Linked DNA regions of Homo sapiens. The protein of the gene in region 2 interacts with the protein of the main gene of each other region in a biochemical or structural test. Each region holds a gene or a part of one and is shown on either strand. Other genes may lie near its edges.

What was found. Proteins that work in one complex are often made in the same cells at the same time.
Region 1: the proteins of OGG1 (region 2) and XPC form a complex in vitro, tested with the Homo sapiens proteins (one study listed by IntAct).
Region 3: the proteins of OGG1 (region 2) and XRCC1 form a complex in vitro, tested with the Homo sapiens proteins (one study listed by BioGRID).

What each region holds. Positions count from the first base shown.
Region 1 is NC_000003.12:14,144,138-14,147,668, reverse strand, and holds the end of XPC (DNA repair protein complementing XP-C cells), read left to right. Parts: exon of another isoform or gene 1-96; intron 97-289; coding exon 290-379; intron 380-1,509; coding exon 1,510-1,728; 3' UTR 1,729-2,522; downstream 2,523-3,531. UniProt on the Homo sapiens protein: Involved in global genome nucleotide excision repair (GG-NER) by acting as damage sensing and DNA-binding factor component of the XPC complex. Has only a low DNA repair activity by itself which is stimulated by RAD23B and RAD23A.
Region 2 is NC_000003.12:9,752,535-9,755,818, forward strand, and holds part of OGG1 (N-glycosylase/DNA lyase), read left to right. Parts: intron 1-2,169; coding exon 2,170-2,351; intron 2,352-3,284. UniProt on the Homo sapiens protein: DNA repair enzyme that incises DNA at 8-oxoG residues. Excises 7,8-dihydro-8-oxoguanine and 2,6-diamino-4-hydroxy-5-N-methylformamidopyrimidine (FAPY) from damaged DNA. Has a beta-lyase activity that nicks DNA 3' to the lesion.
Region 3 is NC_000019.10:43,568,519-43,572,594, reverse strand, and holds part of XRCC1 (DNA repair protein XRCC1), read left to right. Parts: intron 1-4,076. UniProt on the Homo sapiens protein: Scaffold protein involved in DNA single-strand break repair by mediating the assembly of DNA break repair protein complexes. Negatively regulates ADP-ribosyltransferase activity of PARP1 during base-excision repair in order to prevent excessive PARP1 activity.

The DNA.
Region 1 (3,531 bases), 4.4 Mb from region 2:
ACACCTGCCTCTGTCTTGAATTGCCTGTGTCCAGGTTCTGGAAGACCTCACCCACTAAAGATTTTGGAGTCAGTAACGATTAAAAAGTTATCTGTTTTTGTGGCTTTCAGGTATAGTATATCACTTTGTAAATCAGATCAATTTTTTGGAAGTGAGACTTGGTGTGAAGGAGAGGCTATATTCTAAAGTGGTGTATATATCTGTCTTTACATTCACAGTTTCCATCTTAATATTTTTCCTGAAAATGTCAGTGCTTAACACTTTTCTCCCACTTCATTTTTGCCTGCAGAAAAAGGAGAAGCGGGCTCTAGGGAACTGGAAGTTGCTGGCCAAAGGTCTGCTCATCAGGGAGAGGCTGAAGCGTCGCTACGGGCCCAAGGTCAGTGCAGGTTCTTTGCAGAGAAGACAAGCTCAGGGTCAGTTTCTTGGAGATGCAGCTCAGAAAGGCCTGGCCCAGATTCTGCCCCAGCCTCAAGTCAGGGATAGCTTTGTGTTAGGACACCTCAGTCTTCTGTCTCTAAGGCCGCTTGTTTTTACCTTGTTGGGAAAGGTGTCCCTGGAGTGAGGCCTCAGCTGGCTCTTCTGCCCCAAGCCCTGTCCCAGTGTCCCCGTTTCTACTGTCCACATGAGCAATGCCATGGGTCTGATTTGGCGCTGAACACATAGGGAGGGCCAAGTGTCCTGCATTTGGTGCACCCTTCCGCCTTCCAGTGTTCCCAGTGCCTGTGACCATGCTGCAGGCCTGCAGTGGCCCGCTCAGTACCTCTCTCACAGCACCTGCCATGTGCCAGGCCAGGCTTGGACACAGGTGTGAATTTGACATGCAGCCCTCAAGGGGGCCCCTCCCTGGGGCAGATGGACCCTAGGCCCAGTTACATGGTATAGTCAGTGCTGTGTCAGACACAGCAGAAACTGCTCTGGCATGTTTTGTTCCCTCTCTCCAACCCTCTGTGCTGCCTGTTTGCCTTTCAACATTTTTTTGTCACGCTCCTCATTCCAGTCCCTCTGGTGGAGAAAAGCCCTTCATCTGACTTTATGTTCTGACCAGCTCCTTGCCGCCTTCTCCATCCAAACCCTCCCTAGCCATCCCAGCTGGCAGGGAGTGCCGCCTCAGATCTTAGGGCTCCGAGGGCTGAACTGTGCATCTTGCCCGTTCAAGACATCATGTGCTTTGGTCCAGAAATGAGGTAGCAAATGCAAGGCACGAATCACAGGCATCCCCAGATGAGGCAGTGTGCTCCTAGAGGGCAGCTTCCTGCCCAGCCATCATCCTTGTGTTCCCCTGCACTCAGCTCGTAGCAGGTGCTCCAGTGTCTGCTTGGATGCACCCCAGGCTGGGACGGCTCAGTAAGAAGGGTCTGGGCTCTCTCCCTGCCCTGTCCCATGCCCTTGTCCTCCCAGAGTTACACAGCTTAGGGCAGGCTGGGAACTTGCTGCCTCTTCATGGGGCTTCCTGGTATCTGATTACTAACCCTCGCCTGTGTCCTCCCACCACTGCCACCTGTCCAGAGTGAGGCAGCAGCTCCCCACACAGATGCAGGAGGTGGACTCTCTTCTGATGAAGAGGAGGGGACCAGCTCTCAAGCAGAAGCGGCCAGGATACTGGCTGCCTCCTGGCCTCAAAACCGAGAAGATGAAGAAAAGCAGAAGCTGAAGGGTGGGCCCAAGAAGACCAAAAGGGAAAAGAAAGCAGCAGCTTCCCACCTGTTCCCATTTGAGCAGCTGTGAGCTGAGCGCCCACTAGAGGGGCACCCACCAGTTGCTGCTGCCCCACTACAGGCCCCACACCTGCCCTGGGCATGCCCAGCCCCTGGTGGTGGGGGCTTCTCTGCTGAGAAGGCAAACTGAGGCAGCATGCACGGAGGCGGGGTCAGGGGAGACGAGGCCAAGCTGAGGAGGTGCTGCAGGTCCCGTCTGGCTCCAGCCCTTGTCAGATTCACCCAGGGTGAAGCCTTCAAAGCTTTTTGCTACCAAAGCCCACTCACCCTTTGAGCTACAGAACACTTTGCTAGGAGATACTCTTCTGCCTCCTAGACCTGTTCTTTCCATCTTTAGAAACATCAGTTTTTGTATGGAAGCCACCGGGAGATTTCTGGATGGTGGTGCATCCGTGAATGCGCTGATCGTTTCTTCCAGTTAGAGTCTTCATCTGTCCGACAAGTTCACTCGCCTCGGTTGCGGACCTAGGACCATTTCTCTGCAGGCCACTTACCTTCCCCTGAGTCAGGCTTACTAATGCTGCCCTCACTGCCTCTTTGCAGTAGGGGAGAGAGCAGAGAAGTACAGGTCATCTGCTGGGATCTAGTTTTCCAAGTAACATTTTGTGGTGACAGAAGCCTAAAAAAAGCTAAAATCAGGAAAGAAAAGGAAAAATACGAATTGAAAATTAAGGAAATGTTAGTAAAATAGATGAGTGTTAAACTAGATTGTATTCATTACTAGATAAAATGTATAAAGCTCTCTGTACTAAGGAGAAATGACTTTTATAACATTTTGAGAAAATAATAAAGCATTTATCTAAAGATTTGGCTCTATATTTTCTTTCAGATTTTTTTTTTTTTAAGGGGTCTTACTGTCTTGCGCAGGCTGGACTCCTGGGCTTGAGTGGTCTTCCTGAGGGCTTTGCCTCAGCTGGCCCTCACAACCACCGTGTGTGGTGGAAAGGCATTGTTCGGGAAACAGTCCCAGCTCCTCAGGACTGCAGGCACCCACACACCACTGCCGTGCCCAGCTTCTTTCAGATTTAAGTCGGTAATAACACCCAGGTGACAGAGCAATGTATTCATATGTTGAGACAGCATGAAAGAGTCCATTTTGTTTTCATGGAGGCTGGAAATTCATTACATATGGAATTCTTCTGTATTTAGTGAAGAGATGTTAATCTTTGAGAGGAGCCATTAAAAATCGGAGTCACTTTTATCCAAGGGAAACAAACAAAACACTTGAGTTATGACTCATATGTGGCAAGAGGCTGGCTGGAACCTCTTGTTGAGAAACAGACTGGGGTTGCTATGGAAACTGGTCTCACACTTCCTCACCAGAGCTCGGCCCTCCTATAGAGGCAACTTGTTTTCTGTTATTTTTTTTTTTAAATTATTTTTTGAGACAGGGAGGGTTCCACTCTTGCCCAGGCTGGGGTGCAGTGGTGTGATCCCAGCTAGTGGTGTGATCCCAGCTGACTGCAGCCTCAAGCAATCCTCTCAGCCTCCTGAGTAGCTGGGACCATGGGTATGCACCACCACGCTTGTCTTTCTGGGGTTTTGAGATGATGGCATTGCCATGTCTCTGCAGAAATAACTTCTTCAGGCATATGTCAGCTACAAGGAGGCATTATTTAAATGAAACAGTAGGTTCTGAGAAACAGAAGAGTAGGTTTGGGAAAGTTCTCACTCACGTGCTTGTAAAAAATAAAGCAAACTGCTAGCATCAGAGTGGGCAGTTAGCAGCCGCCTTTCAGAACAGGAAGCAAAATGAATGAAAAATTAATGCCTCATGTGTCAGGCATTCTATGGGCTTTGTCTCATTTGGCCC
Region 2 (3,284 bases):
AAAAAAAAAAAAAAAAAATTCAAGCTGGTATCATTGTAGTGAATGGGATAGTTTTGTATCTAAGAACACGTGTGTTCTTCACAGTAGCCCTGTAAGGCAAATGTTTTACAGAGGCAAGTGTATCGATTGGCAGATGTGAGAACCAAGCTAGGACAAGTGCTTGGGAACTGCATAGCAAAGAGACAGACTGCCTCAAAACAGGAGAATGTTTTTGGTGCTTAGAAACCCATTCCTGGCCGGGCGTGGTGGCTCACGCCTGTAATCCCAACACTTTGGGAGGTCGAGGCAGGCAGATCATCTGAGGTCAGGAGTTCAAGACCAGCCTGGCCAACATGGTGAAACCCCATCTCTACTAAAAATACGAAAATTAGTCAGGCGTGATGGCAGGCACCTGTCCCAGCTACTCCGGAGGGTGAGGCAGGAGAATTGCTTGAACCCGGGAGCAGGAGGCTCCAGTGAACCAAGATCAGACCACAGCACTCCAGCCTGGGTTACAGAGCGAGACTCCATCTCAAAACAAACAAAAAGAAACCTGGGTCAGGCACGGTGGCTCACACCTGTAATCCCAACACTTTGGGAGGCTGAGGCAGGTGGATCACCTGAGGTCGGGAGTTTGAGACCAGACTGGCCAACCTGGTGAAACCCGCTCTCTGCTAAAAATTAGCTGGGCGTGGTGGCAGGTACCTGTAATCCCAGCTACTCAGGAGGCTGAGGCGGGAGAATCATTTGAACCTGGGAAGCAGAGGTTGCAGTGAGCTGAGATCATGCCATTGCACTCCAGCCTGGGCGACAGGGCGACAGGGCGAGACTCCGTCTCAAAAAAAAAAAAAAAACCTGGCCGGGCGTGGTGGCTCACACCCGTAATCCCAGCATTTTGGGAGGCCGAGGCGGGTGGATCACGAGGTCAGGAGATCAAGACCATCCTGCCTAATACGGTGAAACCCCGTCTCTACTAAAAATACAAAAAAAATTAGCCGGGTGTGGTGGTGGGCGCCTGTAGTCCCAGCTACTTGGGAGGCTGAGGCAGGAGAATGGCGTGAACCCGGGAGGCGAAGCTTGCAGTGAGCCGAGATCGTGCCACTGCACTCCAGCCTGGGCGACAGAGTGAGACTCTGTCTCAACAAAAAAAAAAAGAAACCTGTTCTTGAGTCTCAGCTCCTGGCTTAGTTAGTCATAAGGCCTCAAGAAAGTCATTCACCTCTTCCGGCTTCTCTTAGCTTGTTTGTAGAATGGGAATAACAGTTTCTATCTAGAAGGGCTTTGGGAGTGAATAAAGCAATCATGAGGCAGTGTAGTGTAATGGGTTAAGAGCACGGCGTTAGCCAGGTGGGGTAGCTCATGCTGGTAATTTCAGCACTTTTGGGAGCCCAAGGTGGGAGGATGGCTTGAGCCCAGGAGTTTGAGACCAGCCTGGGCAACATAGTGAGACCTCATCTCTACAAAAAATAAACAAAATTAGCCAGGCATGGTGACACAAGCCTGTAGTCTCAGCTACTCAGGAGGCTGAGGTGGGAGGATCGCTTGAGCCTTAGGAGGTCAAGGCTGTAGTGAACTGAGATTGTGCCACTGCATTCCAGCCTGGGTGACAGAGCAAGACCCTGTGTCAAAAAAAGAAAAAGCACAGGTCTTGGTGTCCCAGACCTAGGTGCAAGATCTTATCTCCCCCATGTCCTTTCTTAAGTAAGTTAACCTCTTCTAAGCCCTCATTTTCTCCACATGTAAAATGGGAAAACAGCAGTACTGTCAGTGGGGTTCTTGGGAAAAGTAAGCATGATAATATATCTGAAGCATGTTGCCTAGCACTTGATCATAGAAGCTGTTGCTATATTGTGGTTATTTTTTTAGATCATGAGTGTGAACACTCTTTCGGAAAGGTTAAGGAACTCAGTTGGGGAGCTCCTCAAGGGAAGCAAGTCCTCAGTCCCTGGACTAGACTTGGGCTCCGGGGCCAATTCATAGCAGGTGCTCAGAAAACATGTGTAGAGGGACAGGACCCAGGCCTAACCCTTTCCCTTGCACATAAAAGTGTCCACTATCCCATAGAGGGTGGGGAGGTAGGAGGGGAACTTAGGAAAAGCACTCTTGTGAGGTAGAGAGCTCACTTACTAGCCTAAGGACAGGAAGAACTTGAAGATGCCTGATGCTTGCCCTCCTCCTCACTCCCCGCAGGGCCAGAGGTGGAGGCTCATCTCAGGAAGCTGGGCCTGGGCTATCGTGCCCGTTACGTGAGTGCCAGTGCCCGAGCCATCCTGGAAGAACAGGGCGGGCTAGCCTGGCTGCAGCAGCTACGAGAGTCCTCATATGAGGAGGCCCACAAGGCCCTCTGCATCCTGCCTGGAGTGGGCACCAAGGTGAGGCCCCAGGGGGTAGGAGCTGCCCTCTCTACTGACACTAAGAGGAGAGCAGGAAATGAGCCAAGCCTGGGAGCTGGGTGGAGGCTTGGCTTCCGGAGGCAGAGCAGGAAGGAGAAAGGATATAAGTAGATGTTTTATGAGAGAAAAAAGCAGAGTGCAGAAAGAGTAGAAAGGATATAGCCCTTTGAATGAATTTCTAGAAAGACCATTTGTTCAGATGCAACACATATATGCTGCTATATATATGCAGCAATTTCCAGAAGGAAATTGCAGGAAACTAAATAATAGTTTCCTTGGGGGAGACAAATGGGAAGATATTTCTTCTTTTCGGTTTTTTGTTTGTTTGTTTGTTTTGGTAGAAATAGGCTCTTAACAATGTTGCCTAGGCTGGTCTTAAACTCTTGCCCTCAAGCAGTGTTCCTGCTTTGCCCTCCCAAAGTGCTGGAATTACAGGGATGAGCCACTGCTCCCGGCCACATTTTGTTCCTTTCGTAAAATGACATGTACTGACAAAACTTTTTGCTTGATGTCAATAGGGTTAACTGGCAATAAGATGACTGGAAATTAGGCATTTGTCTTTTTTTTTTTTTTTTTGAGGTGGAGTCTTGCTTTGTTGCCAGGCTGGAGTGCAGTGGTGCAATCTCGGCTCACTGCAACCTCCGCCTCCCGGCTTCAAGCTATTCTCCTGCCTCAGCCTCCAGATTAGCTGGGATTACAGGCATGCGCCACCACACCCAGCTAATTTTTGTATTTTTAGTAGAGATGGGGTTTCACCATGTTGGGCCAGGATGGTCTCAATCTGACCTCGAGATCCACCTGCCTCAGCCTCCCAAAGTGCTGGGATTACAGGCGTGAGCCACTGCACCCAGCCTTTTTTTTTCTTTATACTTCTCTGTAGTTTAAAAAATGAATTTTTGCTTAAAGATTTTT
Region 3 (4,076 bases), on a different chromosome or scaffold from region 2:
CTAATTTAAGTGATCCACCCACCTTGGCCTCCCAAAATGTTGGGATTACAGGCATGAGCCACTGCACCTGACCTCAGTCTTTTAAACTGTGATAGATACAGATTGCTGACAGTTTTAGTCTTGAGATCTAGATTCAAGCCCCCAGCTCTTCCTCTTAATCGGTGACCTCAAGAAAATTGTTTCATTTCTCTAACCTGTTTTCTCATGTGTCCATTGGGAATAATGACATCCAAGCCCGGAGTTGTGAAAATTCGGTGACATAATGTCTGCACAAGTGCTCTGTCAACATGTAGGTGTTTGTGTAGAGGGAGGGATTTGTGTTTTTATTACTTAGTGGGTGATGATTCCACTGGGCTCTCTTATGATCAAGTGACTCCAGGGAAATCACATTTCATTCTGTTACCCCAGTTGCTGTGGAAACAGAGTGACTGGAGGCAGAAGAGACAGAACCTGTCTCTGGCCTGGGAGAGACTGAGGGAGTATTGCAGCGGTCACCAACATGGTAAACCCCAGAGGGAGCAGCTTGGGGAGGTGATGTGTTTCAGTTGGGATGTCCAGGTTTGATGTGACTTTGGGACATTCTAGGGGTGGCATCCAGGAGGCAGTTGGGGATCACATGTGGAGCTGAAGACAGAATGTGGGGAAGTTGTCAGTGCAGAGAAAGAACCTATAGACTCGGGAGTAGATGATGGATTTATTTGTTCATTCACTCATTTATTTAGTCAAGTATTTATTAAGTGCCTTCTGTAGGCCAAGCACTGTTTTAATACAGCAGTACACAGCAGAAGACAAAAAATATTCACTCTCAGTGGGGTGCAGTAAGCTCACGCCTATAATCCCAGCACTTTGGGAGGCCAAGGCCTGGCAGTTCGAGACCAGCTTGGGCAACACAGGGAAACTTCATCTCTACTAAAAATACAAAAATCTGCCAAGCGTGGTGGCCTATGCCTGTGGTCCCAGCTACTCCAGAGGCTGAGGCGGGAGGATCACTTGAGCCTGGAAGATCAAGGCTGTAGTGAGCTATGATCGCACCATTGCGCTCCAGCCTGGGCAACAGAATGAGATGCTGTCTCTTAAAAACAAAAGAAATTCAGTCTTGTGGAGCTTTCACGTTAGTAGGGAAAGACTGACAAATGAGTCAGTGAAACATATGTTGGATGATGAGTGCTATGGAGGAACTTAATGAAGGGGAATGAGAGTGCCCCAGCTGGAGCTGGAGCAGTGGCAAGGATTTTTATTTAAATAGTAGGGTCCGGGAAGGCCTCCCTGAAAAGGGGACATTTGAGCAACATGAGCTATGTATGTATCTAGGGAAAAGACTCTGAAGCTGGCTTGTGACAGCAAGGAGGCCAGTATGGCTGGGGTGGAGTCAGCCAGGGGGAGAGAGGTAGGAGATGAGGTAACAGGGTGGGACTGGGAACCCCTAAAAAACCACTTAAGGCCTGGAAAGCCATTGAAAGGACTTGAGCTTTTACTCCAGGTGTGAGATAGGAGCCACCGGAGGGCTCCGAGCAGAGGAGGGACAGGATCTGCCTTAGGCCTTCACAGGATCCTGCTGGCTCCATGTTGACAATCAACTGCAGGGGCCACACACAGGAGTGGGAGATCAGCATTGCAGCAGTTGTTTTGTTAACTTACTCCACGTCAGAGACCCTTTGGAATGACTGATTGCATCTGGCAATGACTAATTTGTGGGGTTACTCTGGATTCATCAAATGCTAATTTTGATTCTTTTGACGTAACTGATAAAGGCAGACATTTCTGGCCACCAAGGCAGTAGGCTTATCTCTGGGTTGTTATGTTATGTTTTGAGACAGGGTCTCACTCTCTTGCCCAGGTTGGAGTGCAGTTGCAAAGTCATGGCTCACTGTAGCCTCAACCTCCTGGGCTCAGGCAATCCTCCCACCTCAGCCTCCCAGATAGCTGGGACTACAGGCGTGTGCCGCCAGGCCCAGCTAATTTTAAAAATTTTTCGTAGAGATGGGGTCTCACTATGTTGCCCAGCCTGGTCTCGGACTCCTGAGCTCAAGCAGTCCTCCTGTCTTGGCCTCCCAAAGTGCTGGCATTACAGGCATGAGCCACTGCACCTGGCCACATCTGTGGGTTCTTCTACTACCCTGCATTTTCTCCTCTAATTATTGTTATGCAAAATCTCGATCTTACCACATGGGGCTTAGCCATCTGCTTATGACAGCCCCACACACCTGGTTGTTTGCAGTAGCCACAGCAGGCTCTGTTGTCTGTTCATCACCTGCTCCCAGAGGGAAATGCCAACCTCTTTGCTAACTACTCCTGGGCTGGAGGGGTGGCTTGGACAAGACCCAGATATAACTCTGGTGTGTCACTGGAGGTGTGTCATTTTTAGAAGAAATGTTCATCAGCAATAGGGCCTATGGTCATTTTTGATTGTTATTGGTTTTCTAATCACTCAGTTCGCCACTGTGGTGTCTTAAATTTGTTTTTACTGTTTTTTGATGTGTAACATACATAGAGTGAAGTGAAGGTGTAAGTAAGAGTACAGCTCAGTGACTCTTTGCAAACTGCAGCCCTGTGTACTCCACACCCAGATGCAGCACAGAACATGCCTAGCCCCCAGCAGTTCCCTCAGGTTCTTTCTGTCAGTACCCCTGCAAGGGTAACCACTGTCCTGATTGTTAACAGCATAGATTCATTTTGCCTGATTTTGAATTGCATATAAAATGGAATCGTGTGGTATAAACTTTTCTTATCTGGCTTCCCTTGTTATGTTTGTTCATTTCATCTATGTCGTTCAGTGTAGCTGTAGATGATTTATTGTGATTTTTTTTTTTTCTGAGACGGAGTTTCGTCTTGTTGTTCTGGCTGGAGTGCAATGGCACAATCTCAGCTCACTGCAACCTCCGCCTCCCAGGTTCAAGTGGTTCTCTTGCCTCAGCCTCCCAAGTAGCTGGGATTACAGGCATGCACCACCACGCCTGGCTAATTTTTTGTATTTAGTAGAGACAGGTTTTCACCATGTTGGTCAGGCTGGTCTCGAACTCCTGACCTCTAGTGATCCACCTGCCTTGGCCTCCCAAAGTGCTGGGATTACAGGCATGAGCCACTGTGCTCGACTCCTATTGTCTTTTTTTTTTTTTTTTGAGACAGGGTCTCACTATGTTGCCCAGGCTGGAGTGCAGTGGCACCATCTCAGCTCACTACAGGCTCGACCTCCCGGGCTCAAGCGATCCTCCCACCTCAGCCTCCTCAGTAGTTGGGACTACAGGCATGTGCCAGTTCACCAGTCTAATTTTTGTATTTTTTTTGCAGAGATGGGGGTCTCACTGTGTTGTCTAGGCTGGTCTTGAACTCCTGGACTCAAGCATTCCTCCTGCCTCAGCTTCTTAAATCCTTGGGATTACAGACATGAGCCACTGCACCTGGCCTATTGTCATTTCTGTATAGTATTCTGTTGTATTGAGATAACTATTATGGTTTTATTTATTTATATTTGATTTTCTTTTTTAAACGGAGTCTCACTATGTTGCCAAGGCTGGTCTTGAACTGTTGATCTCAGGTGATCCCCCAACTTGGCCTCCTGAGTAGCTAGGACTATAGGTGCACACCACCACACCCAACTAATTTTTTTTTTTTTTTTTAAGCTTTTTGGAGGCAGCTTCCTGAGTAGCTGGGATTACAGGGATTACAGACAGAGCCACAAAGACCTGGCCATTGGGGTTTTATTATATTTGCTTTCTGAATGGGTATTATATGCATATAGTGCAAAATTCAAAAGGTGCAAAAGGGTATACACTAAAAAGAAAATCTCCCCTCACCCTTTCCATCCCTCCCTGCTCCCTCCCCAACTCCTGCTCCCTCCCCAACTCCTGCTCCCTCATTCTTCTCTCCTGATGCAACCACCATTAGCAGTTTTTTTGGGTGGTCTTCCTGGGTCATTCTGTACACATACAAGCATATATACCTACCGCCTCCATCCCTTTTTAAAAAATTCATAGTATATACACTGTTCCCTTGTGTGTTTTTTTTCAAGTAACAGTGTATTTTGGAGATGCACACTGCATGAAGTTCTACCTTATTTATTTATTTATTTATTTACT